Regions from separate parts of the Homo sapiens genome. Here regions 1, 2, 3, 5, 6 and 7 are each linked to region 4. The links come from fine-mapping of genetic effects on gene expression. A gene starts in region 4. Each other region holds a variant in brackets. All regions are shown on one strand. Distances are from middle to middle. Region 1 overlaps SLC38A1 (solute carrier family 38 member 1). Region 2 overlaps SLC38A1 (solute carrier family 38 member 1). Region 3 has its middle 110 kb from the start of SLC38A1. Region 4 holds the start of SLC38A1 (solute carrier family 38 member 1). Region 5 overlaps SLC38A1 (solute carrier family 38 member 1). Region 6 has its middle 89 kb from the start of SLC38A1. Region 7 overlaps SLC38A1 (solute carrier family 38 member 1).

The links. PIP is the estimated chance that this variant, and not a neighbour inherited with it, causes the effect. A credible set is the group of variants that fine-mapping cannot tell apart.
Region 1: its variant is the best candidate, but not a certain one, in a credible set for the expression of SLC38A1 in whole blood (INTERVAL, PIP 0.54).
Region 2: its variant is the best candidate, but not a certain one, in a credible set for the expression of SLC38A1 in whole blood (INTERVAL, PIP 0.76).
Region 3: its variant is the best candidate, but not a certain one, in a credible set for the expression of SLC38A1 in thyroid (GTEx, PIP 0.89).
Region 5: its variant is the best candidate, but not a certain one, in a credible set for the expression of SLC38A1 in aorta (GTEx, PIP 0.53).
Region 6: its variant is the best candidate, but not a certain one, in a credible set for the expression of SLC38A1 in T cells (TOPMed, PIP 0.78).
Region 7: its variant is the best candidate, but not a certain one, in a credible set for the expression of SLC38A1 in CD4 T cells (CEDAR, PIP 0.68).

Annotation. Positions count from the first base shown.
Region 1 is chr12:46,202,423-46,207,036 of GRCh38, reverse strand. SLC38A1 (solute carrier family 38 member 1) reads left to right here. Exons shown (of 17, transcript NM_030674.4): 9 at 875-957; 10 at 2,447-2,505; 11 at 2,620-2,736; 12 at 3,948-4,027. Among named protein-coding and RNA genes, the nearest start is that of SLC38A1, 64 kb to the left of the region's middle. The variant A/G (reference allele first, on the strand shown) is at 2,012.
Region 2 is chr12:46,196,069-46,200,682 of GRCh38, reverse strand. It overlaps SLC38A1 (solute carrier family 38 member 1), which reads left to right. Exons shown (of 17, transcript NM_030674.4): 14 at 1,940-2,058; 15 at 2,623-2,764; 16 at 2,866-2,963. Among named protein-coding and RNA genes, the nearest start is that of SLC38A1, 71 kb to the left of the region's middle. The variant A/CA (reference allele first, on the strand shown) is at 2,410.
Region 3 is chr12:46,158,288-46,162,901 of GRCh38, reverse strand. No RefSeq gene overlaps it. Among named protein-coding and RNA genes, the nearest start is that of SLC38A1, 110 kb to the left of the region's middle. The variant ATTTTT/T (reference allele first, on the strand shown) is at 2,550.
Region 4 is chr12:46,266,676-46,271,289 of GRCh38, reverse strand. It overlaps SLC38A1 (solute carrier family 38 member 1), which reads left to right and starts at 2,247. Exons shown (of 17, transcript NM_030674.4): 1 at 2,247-2,764. LOC105378248 (a long non-coding RNA gene) reads right to left here and starts at 2,219. Exons shown (of 2, transcript XR_001749101.1): 1 at 2,132-2,219. RefSeq lists silencers at 1,698-1,797, 1,878-2,057 and enhancers at 2,468-2,567, 2,618-2,667, 1,807-2,789, 2,788-2,847, 3,773-4,614.
Region 5 is chr12:46,219,452-46,224,065 of GRCh38, reverse strand. All of the region lies in intron 5 of SLC38A1 (solute carrier family 38 member 1), which reads left to right. Among named protein-coding and RNA genes, the nearest start is that of SLC38A1, 47 kb to the left of the region's middle. RefSeq lists a silencer at 4,082-4,141. The variant A/G (reference allele first, on the strand shown) is at 2,437.
Region 6 is chr12:46,178,024-46,182,637 of GRCh38, reverse strand. No RefSeq gene overlaps it. Among named protein-coding and RNA genes, the nearest start is that of SLC38A1, 89 kb to the left of the region's middle. RefSeq lists an enhancer at 4,321-4,450. The variant G/A (reference allele first, on the strand shown) is at 2,121.
Region 7 is chr12:46,187,692-46,192,305 of GRCh38, reverse strand. SLC38A1 (solute carrier family 38 member 1) reads left to right here. Exons shown (of 17, transcript NM_030674.4): 17 at 3,235-4,614. The coding sequence ends at 3,336. Among named protein-coding and RNA genes, the nearest start is that of SLC38A1, 79 kb to the left of the region's middle. The variant G/A (reference allele first, on the strand shown) is at 2,140.

The DNA of each region.
Region 1 (4,614 bases), 64 kb after region 4:
GTTTGTTGTTTCAACAATAAATTTCTTTGGGGCTATATAAAGGAAAAAAGCAGGAGAGCCATTTGCATATGCACATTTGAAAAGTAGATTTGTCTGTCATGCTATGAGCGGTAGATACTGCATTTTCCCCAGAGCCTGAAATCTATATCTAGTTTCTGTGAAATAGAACAGATATGCAGTATTTTTAACACAAAAGTGGAACGTGCAACAAAAATTAAGACCCTAGCCTCTTACTTAAAGAAGGGACATAGCATTTTGGGGGCGAAATTTACATGAGCCAACCTCATTAAAGATGTAGATAACCCTGGAAAATGTTGCAGCTACATTTGGCACAATTGTGTTTTGACTCCCTCTTGTTTAACAGTTCTTGTCAGTCTTAGTTTCTCTGTTTTCTTTCAAGGGAGAATCGTAGAAGCCAGAGTCTCTAGTGTTCTCAGGATTCAAGGTCAAATCCAAGGGATCAGGGAGAGAGAAATGTCTACCTGTAGTGACTTGTTTCTCACTGATACTAGCCCAGCAAAACAAAAAGGAGCTTTCTCTTTAAATAATTGATAGGACAAGTTGTAATCTGACAGAATGAAATGTGTGCATTCAGCTTTGAAACCATGTAAATAATTCAAAAGAATGCCACATTTAGCCAATGGGAAAAAAAAAAACCAATATTCCCTCTTCCATTACAGGGGAGTGAAGCTGTAGTATATAAGTAGGGGCTGGGTTAAAGTGTTTGGATAAGACCTGAATAATGATTTTAAAAATTAATGCATATAGTAAAAATTAATAAAAATATATATCATGATATCATGAAATTTTACATTGGAGGGGAAAAAAGTCACTTTCTAAAAAAATATAACCTAATCACTTAAATGCCTTTCAGAGCCTGGTACGTGGATGGCCGCGTTCTGGTGGTGATAGTTACCTTTGGCATAATTCTCCCTCTGTGTCTCTTGAAGAACTTAGGTAAGGACAGATTTTGCTTTTATCATATTCTGCAGTGCCCAAGTGAATCAGAAACTGAATAAAAATGGACAGTGTTGCCCTCTGCTTCCCCTCTGCATGCACTCAAAGATTAAGTACATGATAAATTGCAAGTATTAATCGGTCCCAACTTTAATATGGGATAAAAATAACAGTCAGTATGTGACCTCCTAAACAATCCCTCTACTGAGCTGTGGAGGGGAGAAGGGAGGTCCTGGGGCCAGGACAGACAGGGCTATTTTCAGTAGTACAACTTATATGCTACTCTAAGAAAAGTCCAGAAAATGCAATTCTCTTCATACGAAGTCTTAAATACCCTCATTATTTAGATAAATACATTTTCAAATCTAATATGGAGACAGAAAGCTGCCTAGATTTATACCCACAAGTATTATAAATTTAGAGAGTCTGACCAGCCTCAATTATTTCTCTTCGAAGTGGGAGAGAGAAATCAAAAGTCAGAAATGGCGGATAATCTCCAAGTCATATCCATTTGGCTTTGATCTACTACTTGTTTTTATGCTTGTATTTGGAGACAAGGATGCCTGATGTTAAGGGAATTTCATACATTGAATAATGTGACCAGACTGCCATCTAGTCAAAAACCTATAAAATGTATTTACTTTAATTCTGGGCTAATTCAAACAGAAGTTTGGATAAAAGCTCTCCAAACAATAATTATGAGCCTTAGTTTTTTGTTTTGTTTTGGATACAAAACAAAACAGCTCTGTAGTTGTTCTGTGAGGTTTATAAATAGATTTTTTTAACTACTTAATTTTCTGGTTTCTGCCTCTGTGTTTTCTGTACCTATAGAGGTAGCTCTTTTCAGTTAAGTAGAGAAAAGCTCTTCCCCTGGGTTGAAAATAATGCAGTCCCGAGAGGCTACTTAACTCTACCTTTCTGGAGGTCATGGTAGCAATTGGAGATCTCCCAGGCATTCTAAGGGGAGCTACTAAAGAGCCCCAGATACTCAATTTACCACTAGAAATTCGCTTCATCTACTCTCTGTCATCTGGGGAGAAAAGTATTATAACTG[A/G]CATTCAGTATGCACACAATAAGTGCATAATAAAGAGCTATTGAGGGGATCAAGGAGTAAATGGGTTTGCCCATAGGACTCCATCAGGGTCCACCAACACAGACTTACAGCAAAAATTGGAAGGCTCTTTTCTGCTGGATTCTGGGAATCTGTGTTCTCTAGTGTGCCAGGGAGAGTTGGAATCAAAACACGTAATATAATGTTTCTATTCAGAGCCCCATTTTTTTGCCAAATAAAGTAGCACTGTCAAATAATAAATCTTGTATTCACTTGGGCATGTATGTTTATTATTGGATCTCTAAAATATGCTTCAAATAATGCACTGAAATAAGTGAGGTGATGAATTTTGAAATAATAACAGTTTATGATGGGTAGCTCCAAAATTTTTAAAAATGGAAAAAAATGAAATAATTTATTTTTTACTTTTTTTTAAAGGGTATCTTGGCTATACTAGTGGATTTTCCTTGAGCTGTATGGTTTTTTTCCTAATTGTGGTAAGTGCTGATTGCAATGGTTGGTTTGGTTTTGTGATAGTACAATGGCATGTAATAATTATTCATTGGCTTTACTAAAGTCCATATTGCTTCTACTATACTTCTTAATACCAGGTTATTTACAAGAAATTTCAAATTCCCTGCATTGTTCCAGAGCTAAATTCAACAATAAGTGCTAATTCAACAAATGCTGACACGTGTACGCCAAAATATGTTACCTTCAATTCAAAGGTAAGTTTCCTGATCCTTTGCAGATGAAACAAGCATTTTTATTAAGGACATTCTATTTCTCATGCTTGTAATTGCACTGGTTTGAATGTATTAGTTCTCAAAAGAACACATGATACCATTGCTTCCAGATTACACATCTATGTAGAGATCCTTGAGAAATATACAAATATTATATTTTACACTCTCTCTTACCATTAAGCATTCTCTGTGAAAATCCCATTCTGGATAATTGTCTCAGCTTTTTCTGTGTAGAGTGCTAGGTGATACTTCAAAAACAGACTAACAACATCCTTAGCTCCCTTCTTCTGGCGATGACAGAAAGGAATACTGCAGACTTCCTCAGGTTGCACAGTTGAAATATAGATGCCACCACAAACTGGCACTTAAAAAACTCTCATACTATTAAAATATTGTTGATACAATGGGAAACAGAGGATTATGGAGTCAGTCAGGCTTGGATTTGAATCCTCAGGCAAGTCACCCAACCCCTTGAGTAAAAATAAGTATTCTATTCTGTATCTTACAAGGTTTTGTTAGAATGTGCCTGGCATAGTGCATCAGCAGAGTTAGGGCATAAGATAGGTTAGTTTTCACTTCTTTTTGCATAGGAAGTTAGATTGAGTGTGAGAGTTTCAAAGAGCCTTATCTAAGAAAACTAAATAGATCGCGATCTTTCTCCTTCTCTCTGATTGTAAGGATATAGCCAAAGTAGTGCAATATGGAACAGATTTTCTTTTCAGAGGGTATCTTTTAAGTCCGATTCCATGCACCTGATGTAGAGCGAAGAGCAGTAAACTAGAGGTGGGAGTGCTGGGCCAGTCGCCTGACCTGTTGGAGGGAGCCAGGAGAACAGCCACAGTCTGCCTACTGCTTGGGATTGCTGTGGGGACCCAGCGAGCTATCCTAGGAAGAGTGCCATGTAACTGGCTCATGCTGTATAAACAGGGGGTGTTGTATACCTGGAGTATATAAAATACACCATAGGTGAGCCAAATCCGAAGTCCCTCTGTGACAAGTGGCTAATGGCTCGAGCTAGACAAGCTGTCTTAGAAAAGCTGCTTCTACTTTAGAGATCAAAACCTCCCTAATAACCGAATAATCCAGGGATTCTGAAGAGCTGTCAGATAAAAAGACAGCTCAGAAATACTGGAGCTATGTCCTTTTTATGGTAAAAGTGTTTTTCCTAATGTCTATTCTTTTCTCTCAAATAGACCGTGTATGCTTTACCCACCATTGCATTTGCATTTGTTTGCCACCCGTCAGTCCTGCCAATTTACAGTGAGCTTAAAGAGTAAGAAATTTGTTTAATTTTTTATCTTAATCGTTTTACATCCCCTCATTAATAGGCAAGTATGCAATTAAAATAAACGGACTTGTCTAATGAACGTCAGCGGATTCATCACCCAGCTTCAACATTTACTCACATTGTGCCATTCTTAAACAAGCATTGTATTTTAAGAAACAAGAAAGCAAGAAAAATCAGAAACTTGCAGTATTTTGGGGGGCCATAAACATAAAAAGTAGCCAACCATGTGGGCTTTTTCATTAATTTGGTTTTTCAAATATTGTATCACCGAGGAAAGTTTAAGTATTTGTGTTGCTTTCCATTACGTATGCGTATTTTGCAAGTGGGTGATAATCTTCAGATTTATCTGTAAACTGCTAAATACATCGTCTCTGATTTGCCTGTGGGTTTGGGTGAAAAGGCTAGTAAATCAGACAATAAGAAATCAATATTAAGACCACAAACTAGGAAAAGAGAATATTGCTGTTCATTTTTAACTATTAAGAAAATTCTATGGATTTATTGATTTATTTTTGATTGCTGGTTTTGAGAAAATTAAGGCCTGCTTATAAACTTCTTCATGTCTCTTTTTA
Region 2 (4,614 bases), 71 kb after region 4:
TTAAAAATGAAACTTCTAATTGTTCACTGGAAGTCGAAGCCTTGCAAAGATCCAAAGGAATGATAGAAAATTTTAAAAAATGAAATCTGAAAAAGGGAACAAGTTTTCATATGTAACTTTTACTGACCCTGAATGAACAGTTTACCGGCGTTTACTGCTTCTTCATCCTCTCCTATTCAAATTATCCTGAAGCTTGATTTAATATCTTTCATTATCTTTATAATTGGGGACCTAATTTAAATATATATATGTGTATATATATGTGTGTCTATATATATGTGTATATATATGTGTGTGTATATATATATATATGTATGTATTTCACAATCTTCTCTACTAAATAATAATTCTTTGGGACTTTTTTTCATAAACACAAATGTCTCAAAATTAAACACATTTAAAAAGTATTAATTCAGCCTGGAGAAAAAGGCTACTCTGATTATACAGATATTATTATTGTTTTCACTAGCAATAGAGAATGGCATTGTCTAATGAATTCATAAATACCACATTTAATTTTTACATAAAAATGGTGTTGCTAAGGTGCATACAGAGTTGTACAGGGAGAGAGAGGCGGAGAACTTAATGTTAGTTGAAGTCTCACTGTTGTCTTGTTGAAGCTATAATTTTTCTTTGTAGATGCATTATTTTTCACATAGAATAGAACACCAAACACTTTTATTACTCTTGGATTAAAGAAAAAGGATTAGCTATTTTTTAAGTGGTTAGTTATTTTGAATTAAGGAAATTAGAACTAGTGAGATTGGTATTATAACTTATGGTTCTTTTTTGGAAACTGAGACCAAGCTAAGCTCTATGGTACAGATTAGCATTTGAATTCCATGCTGAGGACCTTGAGACTGGTGCAGTGAGAGGCCCTTGCAGGAGACAGGAGGGGAAATTACCTCTTGTCAAAAGAGTGAGCAGTTCCATACTCTATGTGACTGCCATTCTAGCTTTGTTAGTCTTTGAAATAACACTTTCTGAAGTTCTGGATTGAGAAAAAGTTCAAAGTAGTACATAAGGCCAGGTACGGTGGCTTGCACCTGTGATCCCAGCATTTTGGGAGGCCAAGGTAGGTGGATAGCTTGAGCCCAGGAGTTCGAGACCAGCCTGGGCAACATAATGAGACCCCCATCTCTACAAAAAAAAAAAAAATACAAAAATTAGCCAAGCATGGTGGCACATGCCTGTAGTCCCAGCTACTCAGGAGGCTGAGGCAGGAGGATTGCTTGTGCCCATGAAGCAGAGGTTGCAGTGAGCCAAAATGGCACTATGGCAACCATATTCCAGCCTGGGTGATAGAGCAAAACCCTGTCTCAACACACACACACACACACACACACACACACACACACACACACACACACACACAAAGTAGTACATAAACTAATTTTTTTTTTTTTACAAGAACAACATACATGAAAGAGTGGAATTATTTCCTGATGGTGAAATTTCAACTAGTGTCTCTGCTGCTTGGCCACTTGAAGTTGACTTAACAAGAGAAGAGTTTGAAACAAGCTCCAAGGTGGCTTGTAGCTCTCCCCACCCCACCCCCTCCCTGAGCAAGCCTGTGGCAGTTTGGTGTGGTTTGAAGAGTGGAGGGAAAGTCTAGATTAAGAGCAGCTTCGCGTTTCAACTGTATGTTTCATTCTCGAGCCCAGTGTACTCCTAGGTTTAATTTAGTCTAAATTAAGCATTCCCACTCCATGTAGCTTCTTCCAGTGATTACTTTAAATTTCTTTGCTAAGTCGCGTATGCACAGTGGAGCATGTCTTACATAGAGATTTTTCTTTCCAACCTGATTGTTTTAATAGACATTTCGAAACATTGCTTTTCTTGCCCTTTAGTTTACAGATTCTTTGTTTTTCAGAAAAACTGTCATTCAGCTATATACTTTGTCTCCTTTTAAAACCCTCTTGCTTTTCCCTCATTTTAGACAACGTGCAGTCCGACCTCCTTCACAAATATCAGAGTAAAGATGACATTCTCATCCTGACAGTGCGGCTGGCTGTCATTGTTGCTGTGATCCTCACAGTGCCGGTGTTATTTTTCACGGTGAGTAAGGGCCTCTGTGCAATATGAGAAAAGCTGAGGTCTCGGCTTTCCTTCTGCCTGCAGGAGCCCGTTGCAGAGAAAGCCTGCCCCAGGTAACTTTCCTGGGTTATTGAATCTGCATCTGGGAAAGATCCCAAGACTCGGTTCAGGCTCTTTGAAAAGCAAGTGGCATTCAGTGCGTCAGGGAGCCTCTGATGCAGTGAATCTCCATTCTAATTAATCTGACCCTGTTCTTTCCAAAGAAATGACAATAGAATGTTCAAATCTCAGTAGACATGAAGAGAGAATATAAAAAGAACAGAAATGAACATTCAAGTCTTAGATAAACCAAAGACAGAAATTACACCCCCC[A/CA]ACAAGAAAACTCTACTACTCATAAATAAAAATACTTTCCCTCTTAAGTCAAGCCCCCGTACTTCCAAAACTGTTAAGCTATCTATAAATTCACTAGGCATTACAAAACATTTCATGAATTCCTGTGCACCAATAAATCAGTTACTCTGCAGAGAAATGTCAATGTTGGCATGCTGTAGGCACTTACAGAATCTTTGTTTTCTTTTCTTGCAGGTTCGTTCATCTTTATTTGAACTGGCTAAGAAAACAAAGTTTAATTTATGTCGTCATACCGTGGTTACCTGCATACTCTTGGTTGTTATCAACTTGTTGGTGATCTTCATACCCTCCATGAAGGATATTTTTGGAGTCGTAGGTATGGCTTCATGACTTTGTGCTTGTCATTCTACAGTAGCTGTTTGCAGGGAAATTTTCACAATAGCAATGCTAAACTTTCTCTTTTGTCTTATTTTACAGGAGTTACATCTGCTAACATGCTTATTTTCATTCTTCCTTCATCTCTTTATTTAAAAATCACAGACCAGGATGGAGATAAAGGAACTCAAAGAATTTGGGTATGTCTCTTGCCAGCCACTCTAACTTTTCTGATTAGTTTTCCATTTAAATTTACAAAATAAATAGTCCACCTCTCTATCAAGACTACTTTCAGTTGCCTTGAAAGGAGGCAGAAGCCCTGTAGCTTTGCTACTTGGGAGATATTTAAAATATCATATCAGAATCTTCTCCCATCCCTCCAAATATCTTTTCTGGTTTTACTCTTTTTTTTTGAGATGGAGTCTCACTCTGTCGCCCAGGCTGGAGTGCAGTGGCCAGATCTCAGCTCACTGTAAGCTCCGCCTCCCGGGTTCATGCCATTCTTCTGCCTCAGAGAGTAGCTGGGACTACAGGCGCCCGCCACCATGCCTGGCTAATTTTTTTTCTTTTTTCTTTTTTCTTTTTTGTATTTTTAGTAGAGACGGGGTTTCACCATGTTAGCCAGGATGGTCTGTATCTCCTGACCTCATGATCCGTCTGCCTCGGCCTCCCACAGTGCTGGGATTACAGGCATGAGCCATCGCGCCCGGCCCTCTGGTTTTACTGTTATTGTGCCTCAGCTTTTGTTCTGATCCAGGGCATGGCCAGTCAGAAGAATGGACATTCATCCTCCTGTGTCTCTATAGGACAGTGTCTAGTCTTCAGCAAGAGAGGAAGTGACGAGGGACTCACAGATGTTATGCAGTCCACTGTTTCCATATGATTTCTAGTCATGTAACTCCTCCCTACAGCCCAGGGAACATGCAATGCCTTAATTAAAATGTCTGAGTTAGCTTAAATAGTCTTTTTTATTATTTGACAGATATGCTTTGGAACAACAGACCTGGATTCAAAAACTACCTTTCTATATTGGGATTCTTGTTTCCAGGTCTGGTGAAGTTCAAGGGCATCTTGAACGTGGTGCACTTGGAGACAGTGAGGGAAGCAGGGGTGAAGTGGCTGCTACCTGAGTCCCTTCTGGAGCTCCATTTTGCTTGGTCTTGGAGAAGGCTTCTCAGCTGCCCTCCCAGCTAGTGTAAGCACTGCAATTGTACCTGTTACCTGAGTCAACAGATCCAGATGAGAGGTGTAGGCAGGAGGGTCATCTCTGTGCATTTAGGAAAAGCAGCACTGATGCTAGTAGAGCATCCAGTTCCCCAACATGATCACCCCTGAAGCCTTAATTCCCAAATCCTTCCAAGCCTTATCTGTAGGGGCTTAATGAGGACAGAGAGGAAGAAACAGTCACTCTGGCACAACAGGACAATATATTCAGATTAAATCTGAAAATGGTGGAGGCCTGCTGCCCATGAATTCTGAGCCTCTCCAACCCTGGTCCCATAATGAAACTAGTAGTAGGGTCTTCCAAATGGCATTAGACAAGGGTTCCATCTGTGTAAGGACCACTGGGAGTTAGACTGGACCCAGGATGGTATGCCATGTGCAGCCATGTCAACCCCCAATTTGCTCCTCTCCTTCCTTAGCTCTTTCTCTTCCTCCAGTTTCCAGTCCAGCCCTGTTGGCTCTCAGAATGCATCATCCTTCTCCCTGCAGCGCTCTCACTGAACATGCTCAAGCGCAAGGAACTTATAATCTTGTGTTCTCTGGATTCTGGATTTAGTAATCTGTATTAGTCTGTTCTCACACTGCTAATAAAGAAATACCTGAGGTTGCTTCCAAGATAGCCAAATA
Region 3 (4,614 bases), 110 kb after region 4:
TCATGTCCTTTGTAGGGACATGGATGAAGCTTTTAAACTGCCTTGTCTTCAGCTCTAGATCAACAATTCCTTCTAAGTTAAGGACTGTTTTCCAGAGAAAGTGAAAGTTTCATGCCAAATACAGGAACTGAGCAGAATTTGAGGCTAAAACATCCTCTCTCAATATCAATTAACCCCAGGCCGAATTGCAGTAGACAGACTATCATCTGTAGCATCATCCATGATTTAGAACAATGCAATCATGAACTGCAATCTGTAAGTATGCTTTCCTCGCCGAGCAACCCACTGTCTGGTACCAAACAGGTAGAAAGTCATATCTAAGGGGTTCCCCAGTTATCATAATTTGATTTCAGCAAATAATCAGATGATCTTAAGATCTTCTAGATTATTTCTTAAAGGGAAACTCAATAGAGGAAATTTAGCTAACAGAATACCTATCTTTCCAACGTCTCTCTAAAACAAAATGATTTGGCTTTTATTAAAGGAGACTTCAAAGCAAACTCTTTTTGCCCAGTTCACCTTCATTATCATCGAAGCTAAAGAGAATTCAGCAGATATTAGGATAATTCCAAAAGACTGTTTTTTGCTCTTGGGTTATCTTGCTTTCCAAATGATACCCCAAATCCCCAACAATCAAGTAGAATTCCAGAACCATTTAAAAGCATAGGAAATTTCAACACACCCTGTCTCTTCAGAACCCAGTTGCTTTCAGAAAGAAGAATTCTCTTTATCAGTATTTTAGAAGGACATATCAAAATGCTTGTCATTTTGAAATTTCTATTAATTTTGTATTACTTCGTACTTTTCAGTTCTCAAAATAATACTGTGAAAGTGACTATTTTTTTTTTTCAATTTTCCCAACTTTGTTGGGGGTGGGGAAGCATACGATGTAAATTTATTAAATCTAGGCTAGAACCTCATAACACCGTTTACTAGAGACAAATTTGGTAAGGAGGGTCCAACTTCTATGGTAAGTGGGTTAACTGATGAAGGAGCCTGTCCTCATGGGGCAGTTTCAGCTATAACCAGTGCTACAACACTGCCCACAAGCAAAGCCTTATATCAGACCACCACACAAAATGGAAATAAGGTAGGAAACAGGCCTTACATCCTGCCCAAAAAGGCATCCAGCATAACCTGCCTTGCAGTGAACTGGCTTGGGTTCTTGTACTCCTTTGGAGAGTAGTCCTTAGGTAGGTAGGGTAGGAAGCAGAGCTCCATTCTTGGGGTGGAGGACCAGCCTGAACAAAACAGTATGTCAGAACCTCCCTCCACTAGACGAGGCTTCAGGAAGCGGGCTGTCTTTTACAGAGATTTGGTGTCCTAGGCAGGTAGAGATATCCCCAGTCAGCTCTATGAGCACTAGTCCCATGTCTGATGGGAAGCAAAGCTAGACTCTGGAGTCTGTGTGTGTGTGTCTGTGTGTGTCTCTCTCTGTGTGTTAATGCCTGTTCTTCTGTTCCACAATTCCCCCACAAGGCCCAAGGACAAATGTATTGTCTAGGAGAATTTGCAAGGAGGTAGGAACATGGCTCTGGACTCAGACTGACCTTGGTTGGAATCCTGCCTCTGCTACTTAAAAGCTAAGTGACATTGGGCAGGTTTCCTTAATCTCCTTCAGTCTCAGTGTCCGCAACCAGAAAGTGGGAATAATAATAGTCATCCCATAGAATGGTTGTAAGGAATAATTAGACTGGATAGCATATTGTAAATTTTCTAGCACAGTATCTGTCACATAGTAAGCCCACAATAAGCGCCCCTATTAACATTAAGATGATCTTATCTGTGCCATTTTCCATGCTTCCTTTGAATTCATGGAACAAAGTAGTGAAAAACTCTGCTCAGCAAGTACAAAATCATTGTTTAGACCAGATCTGAGGCCAGCATAAAAGCCAAAAGAATGTTGTAGTTAGAGAGTCCAAATGCAACCCTAGCTCTTCTGAATTCCCTAAGGGGCTGCTCAAGGTAAAGCTGTCACAGAGAGTTTGTGATTAAACCATTGGATAAAAGCCAGACACATTGCATGCTTGAAAAAGGAGTTATTTTCACAAGGGTAATTGCCAGAGACTGATGCAGTCAAGAGTCAAAACAGGGTAGATTCTCATCAGAAATGTGTGCCCACAGAAAAGACTCTTGGCAGAGGACACGCAGCATTAGGCTGTGACATCAGACTTTTGGGCCACTGAGTTGCATAAGCAGGCCCAGTAGAGCGAAAACTCACCAGTAAGAATTAACGCTGGTGGAAGTTTAAGAATGCCAGGCCCCAAGAAGCGTGCAAAATCACATTGCTACGGAACAGCTGGTTCCTTCAGTGCCTGAGATCTTTGCCAGATTCCATCTTTTTCCATAATAATATATTACCTCTATTAACTTACAGAATCCAGGGCAAGATTATATGAAAACTACTAGATGCTGTGCAAATGGCCCCTTATCTGTAACTAGAAATTATGTATGTTGTAATCAGTTTGCTATAACTAAAACTGCGAGCCCCAACATGAAGAATCTTGTTCTTCATGGCATAAGACGCTTGAGCAGCTTTATTTTATTTT[ATTTTT/T]TAACTGTCTTTGGCAGCCGTCCAATAATACTCGGTGAGAAGCAGTCCCTTGCACTCCAGCCACTCCCTTGCTGCTCCATTTAGCCCCTTAATAAAGCTTGTTGAGCAATTAAGTCAGGAACATTGAAACCTTACTCACCTTCAGTCAACCTTTCCTTAATTGGGCAATCAATTTACATGCTTCCAGTCCTGACAAAAGAGAAATGCAGTTTTGGCTTTCCAGGAGCGAGCTATTAAGATTGTAGCCATTTATCTGAGTACTGGCTTCTTAGTTACACACATGTAATACAAAAGAAAGATCTACGTGCTTGTTTTCATACTTCATCTTTCTTGATTTTTTTTAGCAAGTGGAAGTTTAAAATCATTGGCTCAAAACATAAAAACACTATTGATATTTCCATAGTATCTTTTTACAATTCTCAGGGTCACTTAGATTTGTGACTGAAAAAAAAAAAAAACATAGCCCTCAAAATGGCTATTTGAATGATTATAATTTCACAAATACATCTTTTATTTGAAAGAATAGTGAACTGAAGTAAGGCATCATTGGTGACTTGTTCCAAACAATTGGTTACACAAGTGTATTTAAAAAGGAAAGCTTTTGTTCACTTTCATATTTTCACTTAGAAGGTTCTTCTTAAATATCTGAAGTGAATTTGCAGGTTGAAAAGTTACAGCCTCATTCATAGATTGGGAACAGTAGTTCTCAAACATCTGTGTGTGTCCAGTGCTGTCCCAGGATCTAGTTTTCACTGGCCAGGAAAAAAATGAGAAAATCGAGCACATTGAAGTGAGGTTTTTTTTTTTTCTTTCATATATTTGAAAGTATTCCATTTAAAGGGCTGACCTTTTCCTAAGATTTTTTGGCTTCTCTCTATCTCCATACTTCTTTTATTTTTAATTGTACTTGTCCATGAAATCTAAATGTCGGGAACCACTGCTGGTATGTCTAGAAATATAAGAGCTTGTCCTCTGAGAATTGGCTGAGCTCACTAAATTCACATTGTGCAGGCCACAGAAAAACTGTCAGCTTTAGGTCAATAACAATTTGGCTCAACTAGCTGAAAATAGCCCCAAATGGTGTCCAGTCTCCTACCCTCTTCCTTGTCTAATTAAATCCACTTCCTCCCCAAATCCTGATCGTCATGAACTGCCTCCATTTTAAAATACAGGAAACGTTGGACCAAACTCATTTATTTGAACCCAAGAAGAGTGAGTAGTAATTGCTGGGTAACCTGTGCTGAATCCAAAGTGATAGAATAATCTCTGAAGAATGAAAATGGAAGGAAATAAATATTCTCACCTCTCTAAAAAACAATAATGTTCACCCACATAAAAAATCTGTAGGCAGGCAGCAGCTCCATTTTGATTCAGCTAGATGGCTTCACGCTAGTGAAGAAAACATTTTGGCAAAGAATTATTTTATCCAAAAGTAAAACACAGAATTCCAAGTACCTGGTATAACCCAAGTGAAAGCACATCCAAAGGAAATCTCTCCATACCCACTGCCTTTTAGCATTACCACTCCTCATTTTACCTCTTAATATAAAGCCACAAAGTGAGTACATGTAACTACAGCACGTCTTGGGCTGAGGTGGCTGGGAAATTTGATTCCCCAAAGAAAGGAAGAGCATGAAAATCCTCTGAGGAAAGTGATCTTGGCAAGGACTCTGGCTAGGACTCCAGCCCATGTGGATTTCTCATCCTTTGAAGTGTTTATGGTTCTATCCAGTTTTTCATCACTGAGAGAGAAAGAAAAAAAAACTACAAAGTCCTCTCTTTTATAGAAGATATTTTCAGATTTAGATTTTAGCTAGCTTCAAATTCTTGTACACAGAGATACATATAAAACTGTCACTTTGATAAAGTTCTAGGAAAAAGTTAATATAATTTTAGAATCCTGTCTACTGAGTATCAGTAGCCATCCTTCATACCCCATAACCAATTATCTACTCTGGTTGATGAGAACCTTCACAGTGATTCTTTTGGCTAGCTTTTATGCCATAAGGAAAGCAAAGTTCCTGGATCTGACATGCAGAAAATCTTGGTTTTAGGAATTC
Region 4 (4,614 bases):
GCCTCAATTTGAGAAAACAGCAGCCTCCATGTTGATGTTTACTCTGGTTCTAGGTTGTCAACTAAAATCCAGAGAAGGGGTGAAGATCCTTCTAACTCTAGGCCCAAGAATGTCTGATTGCAAATGGTTGTAGCACCACTGTGAAGACTGAGCACGGATTTTGAATTCAGACCTGAAAGGGAATCGCTTCCCCTTCACTAATTACTGTCTTAGGTGAACATGGCCAATTCAACTTTGTACTTGTTTTCTTAAAGAGGATAATACCCAACTGAGGGATTGAAAGCTTTAAATGAGATATTTACATGTAAAGTCCTTAGCACAATAGCTGCCATATCATAGGAGCTCAGTTCATAACTGTTGATTCCAATTCAAAAAGTGCTAAATAACTGCAGTCGTTTTGATATACAGAAACTAGCAAGTAAGTTAAAATTGGAACCAAAAGACAAGCTTGGTTCAGATAATCTCCAAACAGCGATGAATACACATTCTGCCTTTAATAAGGTAAATATTCCAACAGGCCTATTAAGCTATGGCTCACAGTTCATCTACTTTACCTATTCAGATTTCTTACCTTATTGATAAGAATTATTTGTGCCAGGCAAGGTGCACACTACTTAAAATCATTAATTTCACAATAAATTAGCTTCCTCTAGTAAGGTAGAAAGAACCAACTTTTTGATGACCTATAGAATATTGCTATGTTGTGTGTACTCTTCTCCCCTTTTTCACAAATTTAGAAAACAGGATTAGGACAAAAGTAAAGCAGATGAGGGAAGCAGTAAGTGTCAGAGGAAGAAATTGAATGCAGGTCTGTCTGAGCTAGGCTGCCCATGTGTTTGCCCTTTTGGTTTGCTCTGAACTTTCTGTTTTTCAGTATTTCTCAAGAGCATGCCTTCTAAATAGGATTCTCAGGAAGCCACTGTTGAACTAATAAAGGCCATTTACTGCCATTCGAAGGGAATAAGAAGTTTAGTCCGTGATGAGTTTCAAATTTGGTTATCATCTTGCTTTTCCAGTGGTGATGAAAAAGCAAAATTCACCCAAATACAATGACTACTGTCTACTTGAAACGCTCCAGGTAGTTAATTTTTGAATTATGATTCACCTTCCCTTTCCTGTTTTGATGAACCATGAACAGGAGACTGAACCTTCCCTATCAATAAAAAGCTCGCGTTTCCACCCTGCAAATTCGCGCTATGACAGTCTAATTGGCTGAGGCGCAGGTGGGATTTCCTGTCGCCATTTTAAGACACAACTCCTCTGCAAGCAAGTGCCCAGCCAGTGAAAGGGGGCTGTGTCTGAAACAAAGAGTAAGCGGGAAAAAAGGGAACCAGGCCCAGTTGCCCCTGCTCCCCTCCATGCCGCTCCCTCGTCCCCCGGACTTGGAGCGCCCCAGCTCCGTTAACCTGGACGCACCAGGTCCTTCGGTCGGGACCACGTGGGGTCTCCAGGCCCTCCAAGAGCTGGCCCCCGGCTCTTTGCGCCTAGGCCGGTGCTTTCTCGGTGCTCAGCAAATCCTTCTGGTTCACCTCACACCCAGTCCCCAAAGCAGAGCTCCACAGGGCAGATCTCAGGAAGGGCTGACCAGGTCTGCGGGTGCTGGATCCGGAAGAGGGGAGGTGCCTCCCGCTTCAGGTTAGGGACAAAGGGTTTTTAAAGGTGCCCGAGCTCCCCGCCGCCCCTGCCACTTCGGTCCCCTTCCCGCCAACCCGGGCCATCTGCAGGCTGTGCCCAGGGCCAGCCCTCCGCTCCAACGCTGCCCGTAGTCCCAGGCGCTGCCCGCGGCTCTCCGGGCTGCGCTCGGACCTGCCACTCCCGCGGCCATCCTCATGCTGCGCCCTTCCCACAATGCAACTCCCTCGCTCCTTCGGCCCCGGCGGGGCTCTGGCGTACCCAAAATGCAGGCCCCAGCGGAACGCACAGCCCTCCTGTCCTCCGCCGGTGCCCCTTTAGCCGCCCCACCCCCATCCCTAAGGGCTCTCATTCTCCAGCTGCAGCCGCAGCTGGGTTCCGAACACGCCGCCGGGCCCCGGGAGGGAGAGGGGCAGGTGCCAGGGCGGCGCGCAGCCTCTGCTCCCGGTGCCAGCTTCAGTGCGCCGGGCACACGCGCGCCCCGCAACCCCTCCCTCACCCTTTCCCCGTTGCTCAATCTCCGCCAGCCGCGGTCGCTGCATCGTCAGAGAGCTGCAAGAGGGAGGCAGCAAGGTGCGGCCGCCAGCAGTGACACCATGTGACCGGCACGGCTCACTGACACGCAGCTTTGGTTAAAGAGCGGGCGCACAGGAGGGGAGGAGACCGCGCGCGGGACGGGGAGGAATGGCCTGTCCGCGTTAAACCATCACAAGCCATGGTTGCGGAAGGGCCACGCGTCCCCCAGTAGGAGAATGACTCCGATTCGTGACCCTCAGCGCCGGTGCATGTCGATGTAAGTGCGAGGCCGGCGAGCAGAGTGTGAGTGGGGGTTGGTGGTGAGGGGAGATTCTGATGCAATCGGCCCGGAAAGGAGGAGAGCCAGGCGAGCGCGGACTGGGGCGGCCACGCCACTCCGCCAGAAGGTCGCCAGGAGCCTCCGCCCTTCACCTTCCTCCGAAATCCGCCAGGCCACGCCAAGCTCCCTGCCCAACCCTTACTGACGGGGGCCACATTTTCCCGGCCTCCGCAGCCAGACCTTGACACAAAGGACATCAAACTGCCGAGGGTAAAAACCCCGGAAGGGCGGACACCTCCACATCGCCTTTTGCCACCTTTCCCTTTATTTCCGGAGGTAAGGTGATTATCCGTTCCCGGGGAGGGCTGGGCGAGCGGCAAGGGGAGATTTAGATGTCGGAGGAGGAGGTAACGTAGAAATCATCTCTGCGGGCGTGAAAGCAGAGAGAGCTCGGCTGTGCCCGATGCTTTCGGATGTTGCTTTTAGGAGAGGAAAAGTCCAGGTCTCCTGTGCTTCCCGAACGCACGCGGCAGCGGGAGGAAGCGCCAGGGCCCCCGAGTTCACCTTTGCGTGGGCTGTGGCTTACTTTTTGGTTTGTTTTCCTGTGACTTTGGTGTGTTTTCCTGTGGCTGTGGCAGAGTGTGGTACCAGATCTGGTTCCATTTTTACGAGAGCCAGGAACCACGCACGTCTGGAGGGAGAGCGCAGCTGACCCGAGGGCGCGACCGTGTTCTGGGAGTGTTTGAATCCCCGGCCTTTGGTGAAAATTTCCTGTGTCCGCAAGGCCCAGAGGAGATCGTGTGATGTCCGGGGGGTGCTGCGTGCGGCCGGCTGGGTAGCGGCCGCGGACCACCACTAAACCGGGGCATGTTTGCCGTCCTTCCTGGTGCTCTGCCCCTCTGTAACGCGGGGAAGTAGGAGGGCGCGGGGAGAAATTACTAAAGGATGCTTGCAGTGACTCACTGTCCTTTCCTGCCCTGAAGAGGATTTTCTAAAATGCAGAGGGTGGCAGGGGACAGAGGTAGTGTTTTTTCGAGAGCCGGGATGTGCTGGAGCCAGCGAACAAAAGGCCACCTCTTGCGCGGTCTTGGGCGCAGACTGCTCTCGCTTCCAGTCCCACCTCCTCCCCAACCCCCGGCACCTAGTTCGCGTCCCTAAACGTTGCCGCAGAGGCCTTTAAACGCGTGGGTCGGTGCCGGGAGGAGAGCGCATCTTCGCCCTTGTGCGAGCCCCTTGCCCCCTAAATTATCCACCTCCTGGCGCATGGGGCTCCCCAGCACCCACTGGGACCCAGTAGGTTACCCGGCTGCCTGGGCACCGTTTGCCTGCCAAATCGCCCGCCTGAGGTTTGTGCTGAACTGTAGTTAGAGAAGGCACAAGTGCATATGGCAGCAAAAGGAATTTCGCGGTACCCGCGTCACGCCGCTCCCAGTGCCTTTCACAGGCTGCCTTGGGCTGGGGAAGGTGGTGCTACAATTCAGAGTCCTTTGTCTTGCTCTGCGGCGCGGACCCGGGGTTTGTACAAACCCTCGTTCTCTGTTAGAAACCTAACTGCCGCCAGGATCACGTACTTTCTCGGACGAATCCGCGGTGATGTGTGTAGCAAAAGTGAAAAAAGACGCCTCTGCTAGAAAACGGTATTTATTTGCGTTTGGAAGGGGTTTTGACCTCTCTGCAGTGGGTTTTTACATTTTTCAATATAAGGGGGAGGAGGAAAATAAATTTATGGTTTGCAGAATGCAGGGCCCAGCGAGGGTGTAATTTGTCACCTTGATAAAAGAAACTGTGCAGCAACTCGTGCTTTTTCTGACGTCAGAAGGACAACGGAAATAAAACCTGAGCTCGGTGCATGGCTGGCCTCGTTGTCAAATGTCTCATGCCAATTTGGTACTCCCGAAATCTTGCAAAACAGCCAATTCCGGGGTACTGACCTGGTGTGGACCCCCTGGATTTTGGTTCGACCCCAGCCTCAAAATGGCCTTTCTCTTGAGAGTCACTCGATTTCTCAGTATGTCGCTGTAAGCAATTGGAAACTGGAATAGTTTGGTTTGAGGTCTTAATCTTGAGGTTTATTCGCTTTTTAAAAAAATGTGGCCAATAAACATTTTCTACAGAGGGCTTACTGTGCGACTGGCAGCAACTAACAAGATTTGTTTCACCTTCTATGAAGCTTCCGTTCTCAGGGG
Region 5 (4,614 bases), 47 kb after region 4:
GCAGAAGTAGGAATTAGAAATCAATATTGACATGGAAGAATGGTGGGTTTTGTTTTGTTACATTTTGTTACATTTTCTGAAGATTTCTATTAAAGGCATACATTTTACAGGAAATTAATCTCTAGAACACATCTCATAGTACTAGGTAAGTATGATGTTTATTACACTACACAGAATCTGATAAAGCAATAAATGCTTTTTATTTTTCCATAACTTCTTAACATGTATTATTATTTTTATTTTAATAATGTAGTCCTTAAGTTGAAAACCATGAAAAACAAAAGTAGAATTCACGACACTTCTGAGATATCAGTTTATTATTAACACTGAGTTTGTGAACAATCTCTTTGAAATGTTAATTGTGAAACAAAAGTACAATGTGTGTAAAACAATAGTTTAAATTTTATTTGGTTGATTATAATACCAGACCTTTTGGATTCTTTTTTTCCATTTTCTATCTCATTTGTGTTGTGGTTGTGGGAGTGAAAAAGATAATTTATCTAAAAACAGACTTTGAAAAGTGGCATGCAAGGAGACTTTTATTAGTACCAACGCATAGAGCTACTAGGAAGAATAAATGAGTGGGGTGTGTGTGTGTGTGTGTGTGTGTGTGAATGTGAGAGAGAAAGAGAGATGGAGAGAGTGATAGTAGTGCGTGGTGCATAGTACACACTGTAGATATTTGTTAAAATACTACAGTTAGTATTAGGTAGTCACTAAATAATGGCTAACATTTACTGAACAGTATCTATATATGCTACACTATCTTAATCCCCACCAACAACATTATGAGGTAGGTATTAGCCCCATTTTACAGATAAAGTAACTGAGGCTTAATAACTTACCTGTGATCACACATTAGAAAGTAGGGGAGCCAGCGTCCCATCCAGGCTTGCTTGACTCTAGAGCCAGCGTGATCTAAAACACCATACCGCCTTTGGTGATGCCTTCTTCAGACACCAAAGTTGCATTATTACTCTACAACTTGAGAAAAACTTTATTTTTATCAACGGATGCTTGCAAGTTAGTACTTACCTTTTACTTTCCAATATAATGTACCTTTAAAATCACCTTATAAAATCAGCCAGTGTTCCTGAATTATCTTGCTAGTGTTCCACCAATAACCATCCCCTTTACTGTCATGAAAACAGCTTGGCAATATCAAGTGTACCAAACTGTAGACCGAGGATGTCAGGTTCCTGTTCACAACAAGTAAAATGTATGCTTAAAGTATATTGTGAAACCAATAAACCTCTCAGTGGCTTCATATTTGTCATGTGGGTTCCTGCATGTGCAATTTAAGATTTCCCATTGCTTTCAGGAGCTGTTGAACTCCTGAAAGAAGTAACTAAACATTTTGTTATTAAGAATTAAACACCAAGTGATAGCAAAATCAAATAATACCAAGTTTAACCCTAGGAAACTTGTTAAATAACCATGGTACTTTCATAAAATAGAGTATTAGACTACTACTTAAAAGAGTAAAATAGACTTATATGGGCAGGTGAGGAAAAATCTCCTAGGTTGTAACGGGGAACATAGTGTGTAGCACTATGTTACTGCGTAGCATAGTATTATTAATACTGTGTAGCATAGTACTATTACATGAATACAAACTGAATATTGGGTGGAAGTGAGCATGGAAGGAGGGTGTGTCTATATGTATACATTATATTGCCCAGAATATTTGGGGAGGGTACACAAGAGAACTGTTGGCAGTGGTTACTTCTGGAGAGTGAGAAAGGGTCTAGAGGTGGAGTGGAGATGGAAAGTTTAGACTCTTTGAATTTATTTTTAACCTGCTTTTAGAGGAAAAAAAAAAGCTAGTTGAAAAAATTGGTTTTTTGAAGAACTTAACACCAGTGCAGTAAGACTTTTTCTTTTTCCTCTTACCTGCTAAAAACTTGAGAGAGAAAATATATTTTTGGTGTAGATAGTTAGACCATGAAGCTAGAATGAGGACTCTGTCAATGCTGTGCCACTTGTTCCAGACTGTATTTTCAACCTCTTTTCCCTTCAGATGACCTCAGCTTCTGCCACACTAACCTTCCCTTTTCTGTAGAGGCTGCCTGCCTTAAAACTGTTACCTTGGTCTTTCCAGAGCCCACCCGTACCCTGTCTCATCTCTGTCTTCTGAATCCTCATGGTCCTGGAAGGCCTAGATCAGATGTTATCTCCTCCAAAACTGCTTGTCTGATCCTCCCAGGTGGAAGGGAGGTCTCTCTTCCTTTCCTTTTCAGTGTCATTTGTATCTTTCTAATAGTAAGTATCACTTCCATTATTTAAGCATACATTTTACCTTCCCTATTGAATGCTGAGCCCTACAAGGGCAGGATTAATGCCAAATTCTTCCTTGTTGAAATCATCTTCCTCCCGCTAACACGATCTAGAACAGCATTTGCACGTAGCTGCTCCTCAGCAAAGTTTTACTGAAAT[A/G]AGTGAATGGATATGTAAGAATTAGATTTTGCAAAACCAGAAACAAGGCTTTAGGGCAAAACAGTGGCTTTCATTATTGTTGCAAATTTATCAGAGAGAAAAAAGATCAACTGAAAGGTTTAGTTCACCCTCAGACTTTTAGTAGGCTGTGGAGATGTGATAATAATCACAGAGTCAGCATGGGACTGGCTGCTCATTGTCTACTTTCCTAGGAATGCCTCCTTCATTTGAAAATTCAAAATAGTTCTGAGACTGCTAAGAAATACTAGATGAGGTTGGTATTGCAAAAGGGCATTTGTTGTTAAATTGCTGTTTGGGAAAAGGACAGTAATTGTCATTGTCAGTTACAGCAATTATCTTCACTTTGGTGGATTGTTCACTTAATTGTAGGTGAATTCTCTGGCCCTCTCTCCCTCCCTGTCTCTCTGTCTGTCTCTCAATATTCTCCTTTGTGGGCCATTTGTAATTATCCTACCAGCAAAACTATGCACCATTGTATTGTCTATGATCCATGTTTACAAACAAATCAGTTAGTACCCCTTCCAGTAAGGATAAGTCGAAAAATATAAGGGTCTCTGTAAACTGAGATCAGACTACCAGGTCCCTTCTCTCTTTAAATTTAGTGTTTTACAATTGAGCCTACATAAGGAGTAAATAGAAATAGAAGTAAAAGTATAGACCCATCAGCACGTTGCCCTAAGTCCTTGCTTGTATGTTATGGGAATTTGATCATTATTATCCCATCACAAAAAATAGTCTTCTCATTCTATCGGGAGAATTATATTCTTAACCAATTGCACCAGCATCACTTTCTGATGTCTCTAAATATTTTTCAGCAAATTCTACTAAGTTGCAGTGAGATTGCAGCATACCTTTATACAAACTTGGCCTGCTCTTAAGCTATCGTTGCTTTATTACTTTACATATATGCCAAAAAGGTTGAATGACACCTACCAAGATAATAATTTTGCTCTCAGTGGCAACGAAGATGGTCTGTGTGCTATTTATCAAGTTATTCCTTATAAATGGTAAGTCATCTCCTCTGTGCATTCCTAAGTGAGCAGTTCTTTGCCTCCTTAGGAAATACCAAACTGGATCTTGTGATCTAAAGACAGAGCAGTTAAGAGGAAGTCAATAAGGAAACCCTACTCTTCCGGATGATCCTAGGAGGTCCATCGGACTAGTCACATTCATCTTTCCTCTTGCCAATCAGTTTCTTGTTTTTAGAATTCTTTGAGTTATAGTCACAGTTCCTTAGAAATGATTTGAAGAGAAAATTGTCCTTTGGCTGGCAGCAAAAATCATTGACATCAGAGTCTGTTGTTTGGGAGTAATAACCCGGGAGAGGGAGAAATGGCACATTCAGGCTTGCCAACATTTGAAATACATGGAAAAGGGACAGTGGCAGTGCCATTGAACTCTATTGAAATCCACTGGATTAAGAAGCTTTTCAGAAATAGGGAAATGGGAAAGTGGTTAGCATTGCGTTAACAATGAGTGCCTATTTTGTAAACAGAAATAGTTGGCATGTGTAGGAGATGAGTCCCACTCATTGTTTTTAGAAGTTGAGCAGCTATTGCTAGTTTATGAGTCGTCTGTGATGCATCTGATAAGGGGGTTCTAAGAATTCAATTCTCTTAGCCCCAGAAAGGTAGGGGTGTGTGTGCGTGTGTGTGTGCGCGCACATGCGCTAGAGTGTATACCCTGAGTTCACTCAGTCCTATTTATGCTGAGTTGCCTCAGGTGCCTTGGTCCTATCCAAGGACAGCAGTGTGATCTCTGTTTTGGTACAGTGTATTTTTCTTAGCCTGCAACAGACAACTTAACTATACTGGCTATGGTTTTACAGCATTATTTACCTCCATGATTGGTAGAATGCCTTCTCTGCTCACTCATCTGGTTTACAGTAGGCCAGGTTGGAGTTATCACAGTAGAGCAGGTTAAGTGTGGTGCAGAGAGTTGGATTTTCAAGGTTAGCTTGAACTTTTATTACTCACAGAGTGGTAGTTGGTTTAATTAGAAAACTACTCCTTTGTGGGCCAGTTAGTTTTGCTTTGTTCTCTGGCCACAGACTTTACCTTATGTCAGGCACATGATTTCAAAGATCTGCATCTATATCAGGGGTCAGCAAGGGACAGCCTGCAGACCAAAGCCACCCGCAGCCTCCTTTTGTGTGGC
Region 6 (4,614 bases), 89 kb after region 4:
ATCACCAACTCCTCTCCAGCATCTTAGAAAGGCTTTACCAGACCAGCAAGATGGCCAAAGTCTGATATCCAAGTTCTTCTTGTGGACAGGGCTAGCACAGGAATAGCCTGGGTCTTTTACGGTGTGGCTGGGAATGAAGACCCCCTTGATGAACTCTTCTGGCCTACCCAGGTGACAGCAGTGCATTCTGTAGGGCCTCGGTGGCACACACGCAAAACTCAAAGTAGAAACCTGGGGTACGGGAGTCCAAGTCATGTTCTCCAATATAACTTCGTTAGGAATAAAGCTGATATTTTTATCCTTACATGCTTCCTATGCCTACTTCTTAATTGATCAAAACCCCAAGGGCAAAGGGTGTGAGTGAGTAATTAGCACTTTTAAACTCAAGCAGTGGTAAAAGTTAAAAGACTATTGAGAATCTGAGCAGATTTTGTTCCAAATTGAAAGGGCCAGTCCTGCAGTGCCTTTGATAGTTCTGGCTTCTTCCTTCTACTCTCCCTCCATGAGTATTTGCTAATACTGTTCCATTCCGTCCTTTTTTACACAGAATTGTCAGGGAAGAGCTATTCTCTGCCTTTCCCATGGAATTAACTATGGGCTTGTATTAGGGCTCTCCAGAGGGACAGAATTAATAGGATATATGTATATATGAAAGAGAGTTTATTAGGGAGAGTTGGCTCACATGATCACAAGGCGAAGTCTCACAATAGGCCGTCTGCAAACTGGGGAAGAAAGAAGCCAGTAGTGGCTCAGTCCGAGTCCAAAAGCCTCAAAAGTAGGTAAGCTGACAGTGCAGCCTTCAGTCTGTGGCCAAAGGCCAGAGAGCCCCCAACAAACCCCTGGTGTAAGTCCCAGAGTCCAAAAGCCAAAGAACCTAGAGTCTGATGTCCAAAGGCAGGAGGAATAGAAGGAAGCACCCAGCATGGGAGAAAGATGAACACCAGAAGACTCAGCAAGCCAGCTTAGCCCGTCTTCTTCCACCTGCTTTGTTCTAGCCATGCTGGCAGCTTATTGGATGGTGCCCACCCCCATTGAGGATGGGTCTTCCTCTCCCAGTCCACTGACTCAAATGTCAATCTCCTCTGGCAACCCCCTTGCAGATGCACCCAGAAACAATACTTTACCAGCTATCTAGGCATCCTTCAGTCCAATCAAGTTGACACCTAATATTAACCATCACGGGGCTTAATGATAACTTTGCAACTCAGATGTCCTGTTTTCTTACTTTCTAGATTTATAATTGTGTTCTACCTAGTTTGGAAAGGGTGGATGAGGCCCAAATAACTAGGCCAATTTTTGAATATCAATTTTTAAAAATCTTTTATTAGTTTACATGTTAGGCTAATCCAAGTTGGTAGAATAATCTGCTCATTGGGAGAGTCAGTACACCACCAAAATAACCTGACAAATTACCCAAATTATATAAAGCCATAGCACTTAGAATTGAACTGGGTACAAATAAATAAATAGATCATAATAGTGAATGCATAAATGATCCAAAAAATACCAGAAAGGTGGCCTTTCAAATCAATGGGGAAAAATAAAGGTTACTTAATAAATGATAGGAAAAAATACATAGTTTTTGAAGAAAATGAAACCAGATTTCTATATTACCCCTTATGTCTAAAGAGAACTTAGATATATTAAAGACTTTAAATAACACATGTGTAAATATATCTATTTTTATAAGCATGAAACCATGACTTAAATAAAGTATGTGTCAAAAAATTTAGTTAGCTTATTAATTAAGGAACAAGTAATATGTTTAAAAATTGGTCCAAAGGAGAACTCAAAGAACAGATACATATATCAGCAATCAGGAATTCTAAAATGAATTTGCTAATAGATGCAAAACTGGCCTGTCCACAGGGGGAAATTAATTGCATCTTTTTTTTTAATGTACTTTAAGTTTTAGGGTACATGTGCACAATGTGCAGGTTAGTTACATATGTATACATGTGACATGCTGGTGCGCTGCACCCACTAACTCGTCATCTAATTAATTGCATCTTAATCAGACAGAATTATTTTGTATGTCTGGACAATAATCATTTCCATCTCTCAGTTTTCTACAATTTAGAGGGTTATAAAGTAGCTCAAAAAACAAAAAAAGGGGGTGC[G/A]AGGCAAAACTCTTATAGAATCAGATAACCCAGAAGCAGCATATAATATTTCGTTGAAAGTACACCCACCCAGTAATCTTTTTTGCTTCTTTTAAAGTCTTTCCAGTTTCCGTAACAACTTCCCCTTTGTGACTATAAAAATCTCAAAGATTATTCTTGGTCATAAAAAGAATGGTCCCATTAGCCTTGGCCTGATTATTTGCATGGGTGCGGCAAGGGTGTTAATTAACCACATAAGCTTCCTTGAATTTGGTTTGCAATTCTAGAGCTATGTACTATTGAACAGCTACTGGAGCCACAGAACTGCACTTTTAAAAGTCTCTATGGGTTGAGGGGGAAAAAGTCTCCATCATTTGCTAGCTCAGGGCTAGGAAAGCAAGCCCGAGAGACTCCACCGTATTCACCTATACCATCTATAGATTTGGATGAATTCCTTTCTACTTGAGGTCGCTTAAATTTACTAAGGTTCATGGCCTGCCAGGAAGTGCTCTTTGTCACCACCCATCATAATAGGATCCTATAGACCAGTTTAGGTACTAGGCTCTAGGTTACAACCCTAGAAGGTTGGTACTAAGCCAGGGTTTTGTAGGCATTGGCTACAGAAATAAAATTAACCTTTGTTCCTTGGAGTTGTTTGACATACCTGTTAAATGACCATCATCCTCACATATGATCTTCCAAGTAAGGCCATGGTGACATTCAATTTTGTCCAGTTATGCACCGGGAAAGAAAAAGACTCTTGTTGAACCTATGCAAATAACTACATTGCTGTCAAAAAGGTAACTCAGTCACAGTGTTTAAACTCGGGGTGGGGGAGAGTTCAGTGAAAAGCAGGAAGAAAATGTTTAGTTTTATTTTACAAAAGCAGAGTCTACTGAATTGTTGTAGACTGAAGATAGCCTAAGAAGAAAGAGAAATGTCTTCCTTATATATCCAGCAAATACAGCCTTAAAACAACATCAATACAACCACAGTGAAAATTTTCCTCATCAGCTCATTCTGTCCTTTGTAATTGTGTTTTGCTGAATTTTGGATTGGCATTTCTGCATTCAGAAAGCTATGTGCTTCTGCATTGAAAAGACTCCTGTAAATTCATACTCATTACACAGGTACAGACTGAAAATTGTCTAAATACCATCAGCTCAGGGTTTGTACCCAAGAGTCTATTCTTTGAATAGACTTCGATAGTTTAAAGTACTTGGTGCAATCTTCTTCCATGAGACTCTGAGGCTCTTTCTTTGCTGAAGAACCAAATTTTGGCTTGTAGTTAATAGCAGAGACTAAGGTTAGTTTCAGGAAGCAGAAACCTATTTGATAATAAGACCAAAAGTTGTAGTTAATTTACCTCAGTAACTAATAGTTATCCATTATATCTTAGGTATCCTTACCGATAACCTTGAAGGACCACGTGGTATTCCACTGAAAGGTCACCTAATAATCTGTTTTGCCCATTTCAAAGTCCTTTGCAATTTTTCTCTTGCAATATATATATCTATATCTTATATAGATAATACCTTGGAGTGCAGAAGATCTCTCTTGTTACAAAACATAGGAGCCACAGAGGAAGTAATTGATCAGTAAATATTTTAAAACTCTGTATGACATACAATAGTGCTAACATGTAAAAAAATCTGAAAATCCAAATGGGATACAAAACTAATATTTGCCACTCATATGTTGCAATGGATGGGACCTGCCTCTTCAGTTTGAGGTTCAAATTATTCAAAATATTCCCCTGGCCAAATTTCCAGGATGCCTAACACCTCTTTCTTTCCCACTTCCAAATGGTGCAAGAACCCAGAGGTGTCTGCTTCCAAACTCCAGGCAAAGAGAGAACTGGTGAATGTAGGCTTCACAGCAGGCTTCCTTCCCACCTCATTCATTTCCGCCACTGCCACATGATGTCCTTGTTGAACACCGGCCCTGTGTAATCTGTTACATCTGTGTCTGCTGCTGCAATCATGTCCTCATAGGTCCACAACTTGAGGAGGGCTGAAGCAGCAGAGGAAGGTTGACCCCAATCCACACAGTGCTATGGTAGCTGTCACTTTCGGAGCCCAAGCAAGGAATGGCTCCTCAGTTTGCCACCAGCTCACTCCCAATCCATACCCTCCACCCTGTCTGGCTCAGGGGGGCCTTTTGTTTACAGCTGTACATTGTGTTAAAACCAACCCTCTCACTTTCCCCCAACCCTCTCACTTTCCCCCAACGCATGGGAGTTGAAACTTGATACTGATTCCAGGTTCTACTCCTGATGTCCTCATGGTGAGTTCCTCTGTAGAACTCTTACTGTTTCTTGCTCCTTCCACGATTATCTTAATCCACAAGTGAAGTATGAAAAGTAGCAAAACCCAAAAGGGAAAAAATTGAGTAGGAGACAATATTATTTTCCCAGGAGCTGTCCTGGTGCCTCTGCAACTTTGCCTGACTCAATAATTTTTGGTGCAGAAATGTCTGACTTGGGGCACTCAGGTTAAACCACAGAAACACTGTC
Region 7 (4,614 bases), 79 kb after region 4:
GCTTATCCACTATGATCAAGTCAGCTTCATCCCTGGGATGCAAGGCTGCTTCAACATATGCAAATCAATAAATGTAATCCATCACATAAACAGAACCAATGACAAAAACCACATGATTATCTCAATAGATGCAGAAAAGGCCTTTGACAAAATTCAACAGTGCTTCATGCTAAAAACTCTCAATAAACTAGGTATTGATGGAACATATCTCAAAATAATAAAGAGCTATTTATGACAAACCCACAGCCAATATCATACTGAATGGGCAAAAACTGAAAGCATTCCCTTTGAAAACTGGCACAAGACAAGGATGCCCTCTTTCACCACTCCTATTCAACATAGTGTTGGAAGTTCTGGCTAGGGCAATCAGGCACAAGAAAGAATGAAAATGGTATTCAATTAGGAGAGGAGGAAGTCAAATTGTCTCTGTTTGCAGATGATCCCTGATTGTATATTTAGAAAACCCCATTGTCTCAGCCCAAAATCTCCTTAAGCTGATAAGGAACTTCAGCAAAGTCTCAGGATACAAAATCAATGTGCAAAAATCACAACCATTCCTATACACCAATAATAGACAAACAGCCGATCATGAGTGAAATCCCATTCACATTTACTCTGAAGAGAATAAAATACCTAGGAAGCCGACTTACAAGGGATGTGAAGGACCTCTTCAAGGAGAACTACAAACCACTGCTCAACGAAATAAAAGAGGACAGAAACAAATGGAAGAACATTCCACGCTCATGGATAGGAAGAATTAATATCATGAAAATGGCCATACTGCCCAAGGTAATTTATAGATTCAATGCTATCCCCATCAATCTACCACTGACTTTCTTCACATAATTGGAAAAAACTACTTTAAAATTCATATGGAACCAAAAAAGAGCTCACATAGTCAAGACAATCCTATGCAAAAAGAACAAGCTGGAGGCATCATGCTACCTGACTTCAAACTGTACTACAAGGCTACAGTAACGAAAACAGCATGGTACTGGTACCAAAACAGATAATATGGACCAATGGAACAGAACAGAGGCCTCAGAATTAACACCACACATCTACAACCATCTGATCTTTGACAAACCTGACAAAAACAAGAAATGGGGAAAGGATTCCCTATTTAATAAATGGTGCTGAGAAAACTGGCTAGCCATATGTAGAAAGCTGAAACTGAATCCCTTCCTTACACCATATACAAAAATTAACTCAAGATGGGTTAAAGACTTAAAGGTAAGACCTAACACCATAACAACCCTAGAAGAAAACCTAGGCAATACCATTCAGGACATAGATATGGGCAAAGACTTCATGATTAAAACACAAAAAGCAATGGCAACAAAAGCCAAAATAGACAAATGGGATCTAATTCAACTAAAGAGCTTCTGCACAGCAAAAGAAACTACCATCAGAGTGAATAGGCAACCTACAGAATGGGAGAAAATCTTTGCAGTCTACCCATCTGACAAAGGGCTAATATCCAGAATCTACTAAGAACTCAAACAAATTTACAAGAAAAAAGCAACCCCATCAAAAAGTGGGCAAAGGATATGAACAGACACTTCTCAAAAGAAGACATTTATGCAGTCAACAGACACATGAAAAAATGCTCATCATCACTGGTCATCAGAGAAATGCAAATCAAAACCACAATGAGATACCATCTCACACCAGTTAAAATGGCGATCATTAAAAAGTCAGAAGACAACAGACGCTGGAGAGGATGTGGAGAAATAGGAACACTTTTACACTGTTGGTGGGAGTGTAAATTAGTTCAACCATTGTGGAAGACAGTGTGGCGATTCCTCAAGGATCCAGAACTAGAAATACCATTTGACCCAGCAATCCCATTACTGGGTATATACCCAAAGGATTATAAATCATGCTACTATAAAGACACATGCACATGTATGTTTATTGTGGCACTATTCACAATAGTGAAGACTTGGAACCCCAAATGTCCATCAATGATAGACTGGATTAAGAAAATGTGGCACATGTACACCATGGAATCGTATGCAGCCATAAAAGAAGGATCAGTTCATGTCCTTTGCAGGGACATGGATGAAGCTAGAAACCATCATTTTAAGCAAACTATCACAAGGACAAAAAACCAAACACTGCATGTTTTCACTCATA[G/A]GTGGGAGTTGAACAATGAGAACACATGGACACAGGACAGAGAATATCACACACCAGGGCCTGTCGTGGGGTGGGGGGCCCGGGGAGGGATAGCATTACGAGAAATACCTAATATAAATTACAAGTTGATGGGTGCAGCAAACCAACATGGCACATGTATACCTATGTAACAAACCTACACATTGTGCACATGTACCCTAGAACTTAAAGTATAATAATAAAAAAAAATACCTGAGACAGGGTAATTTATAAAGGAAAGAGGTTTAATTGACTCACAATTCCACATGACTGGGGAGGCCTCACAATCATAGCGGAGGGCAAACAAGGAGCAAAGTCACGTCTTACATGGTGGCAGGCAGAGCGCATGTGCAGGGTAACTCCCCTTTATAAAACCACCAGATCTCATGAGATTTATTCACTATCACAAGCACAGCATGGGAAAGACCCGCCCCCAGGATTCAATTACCTCCTACCAGGTAACTCCCATGACACGTGGGAATTATGGGAGCTAAAATTCAAGATGAGATTTGGGTAGGGACACAGCCAAACCATATCATCATCTGTCCACCTATGGCCTTCATCAGCCCTTCAGGTAACTTAGTTTTTGACACCTGTTTCCTATTTCACTTAATCAAATCTATTTTGCTTTTGTATGTTTTTTTTCCACTTTTTCAAACAGAAATGTTTGCTTGCCAGTGATAAGCTAAGTTGGTAGGTAATGAATAACAAAATGACCTGGATATTTTCTAAGGCCTTTATTCCCCCTTGGTTGTAATCTTAGTTTGAGAGAAGCCATAAGGATACCCAGTTATTTGTAGAATGGATACATACACTTGAGGTGACCATGAAGTCAAAGAATGGGACATAGAGGACTACTCTGCTTAGCTAGTTTTTTTTTTTTCCTATTTTCCCATCCTTGCAGAATCAGATTCATAAAATTTTAGAAAGATTCTCACAGTTCAGCCATGGTTGTGACAAACTCTGAATACCAGAGGACACAAAGGGAGAGGAAAAACTGTTCTATTTTTTTTCCCCAGGTACATGTGGAAAAATTTTGCTGCACTGAAAATAACCCTTGCCTTTCTCTTGCTCCAGGCTGCCCTTTTCTTGGGCCTGGGGGTGTTGTTCTCCTTGGTCAGCATTCCCTTGGTCATCTATGACTGGGCCTGCTCATCGAGTAGTGACGAAGGCCACTGAAACCCGCCGAGAAAAAGAAACATCCCTGTTGTCTGCTCAGTCAAGTCCCCACACATCAGCAATCTCTCACCACTTCTTTTGCAAGTTTACAGAAGCAAACAGAAATGTACAGGATACTTAAAATGGAATAACTTTTTGGTTGCAAAACAGAGACATGGTTCTATAATGCTTCATGTCCCTCCAAGATTTGAGATCAATTTAGGGATTGTGAAATTTTTTTTTCAAATTTCATACAATCATATTTCCCAGTACTTTTCACAATCATTTTTTACCCATCTAACTCTATGTTTTGTGGCTTCCCGGTCTCTTAGAACTTTGAAAACATGATATACAATAATGTTTATTTATTATACATCCAGATTCTGAAATAATTTTCCTACTGATGTTCAGCTCACACTATCTGTACCTTTTTAGAAGAGAAAAGAATCTTGAATTGTATATATTTATTTTGCTTTACAGAAAAAAATGGTTTCGTAAATAATTTGCCTATTTTGGTTAACATAGCACATGGAGATAATCATCTGAAAGTTATAGGGCACTGCCACTGCTGAATCAGAGCATGCCCAATATTTGAGGTGGCTCTGATTTCCTGGCAGCTGAACTCGGGTAGTCCAGTGGCCTAGCTGGTACCACATCTATTCCCATCCAGAGACATTCTCTGGCAAGTGTTCTCAGCTGAAAAGTGGTTGGGGATGATTCTTACCTTGGTAATTAAATGAAGCTACACATTTGGGTAATCTAGCAAATGAAGTATTTTTTCCCTCTTGGCAACTTGTGTCAGAGTTACTCTGGTCTGAGTCAACTTTCGCTGGGGAAAACCTATGGAACCTACTGCAAAAAGATTGTCCAAAATGCCTAAGAAAATACTCCTCTGATGCATTTAGCCTTCAACCCTACCTGTCTTGCTGAAGGGAGAAAAATGTTTTAGTACATTATAGGCCCAGCAGCTTTTATTCATGTCCACCAGCTAGTTGCACAGAGAATCATGTGTACCTAACTAAGGATGATCTAGGATAAGTAACTCCTGTTTTATATTGAGTATTTTAGGGAAGTCTTTAAAAGACTTGTTTTATATCTATAAATCTAGGTTATTACAAATACAAGAATTTTGTACCTTAAATAAGCCTCATTTCTATTTCTTCTTCATTAATTCTCCATCTAGTCTTGTGAAAAAAAAAAAAAAAAAACCCTCAGAGATAGTCTTTGTGAAGAGCTTCTGACAGAATCACTGAGTACCTTCCTTCCCCCAGATGAGGAAGACAAGGGGGTCTCAGTGTC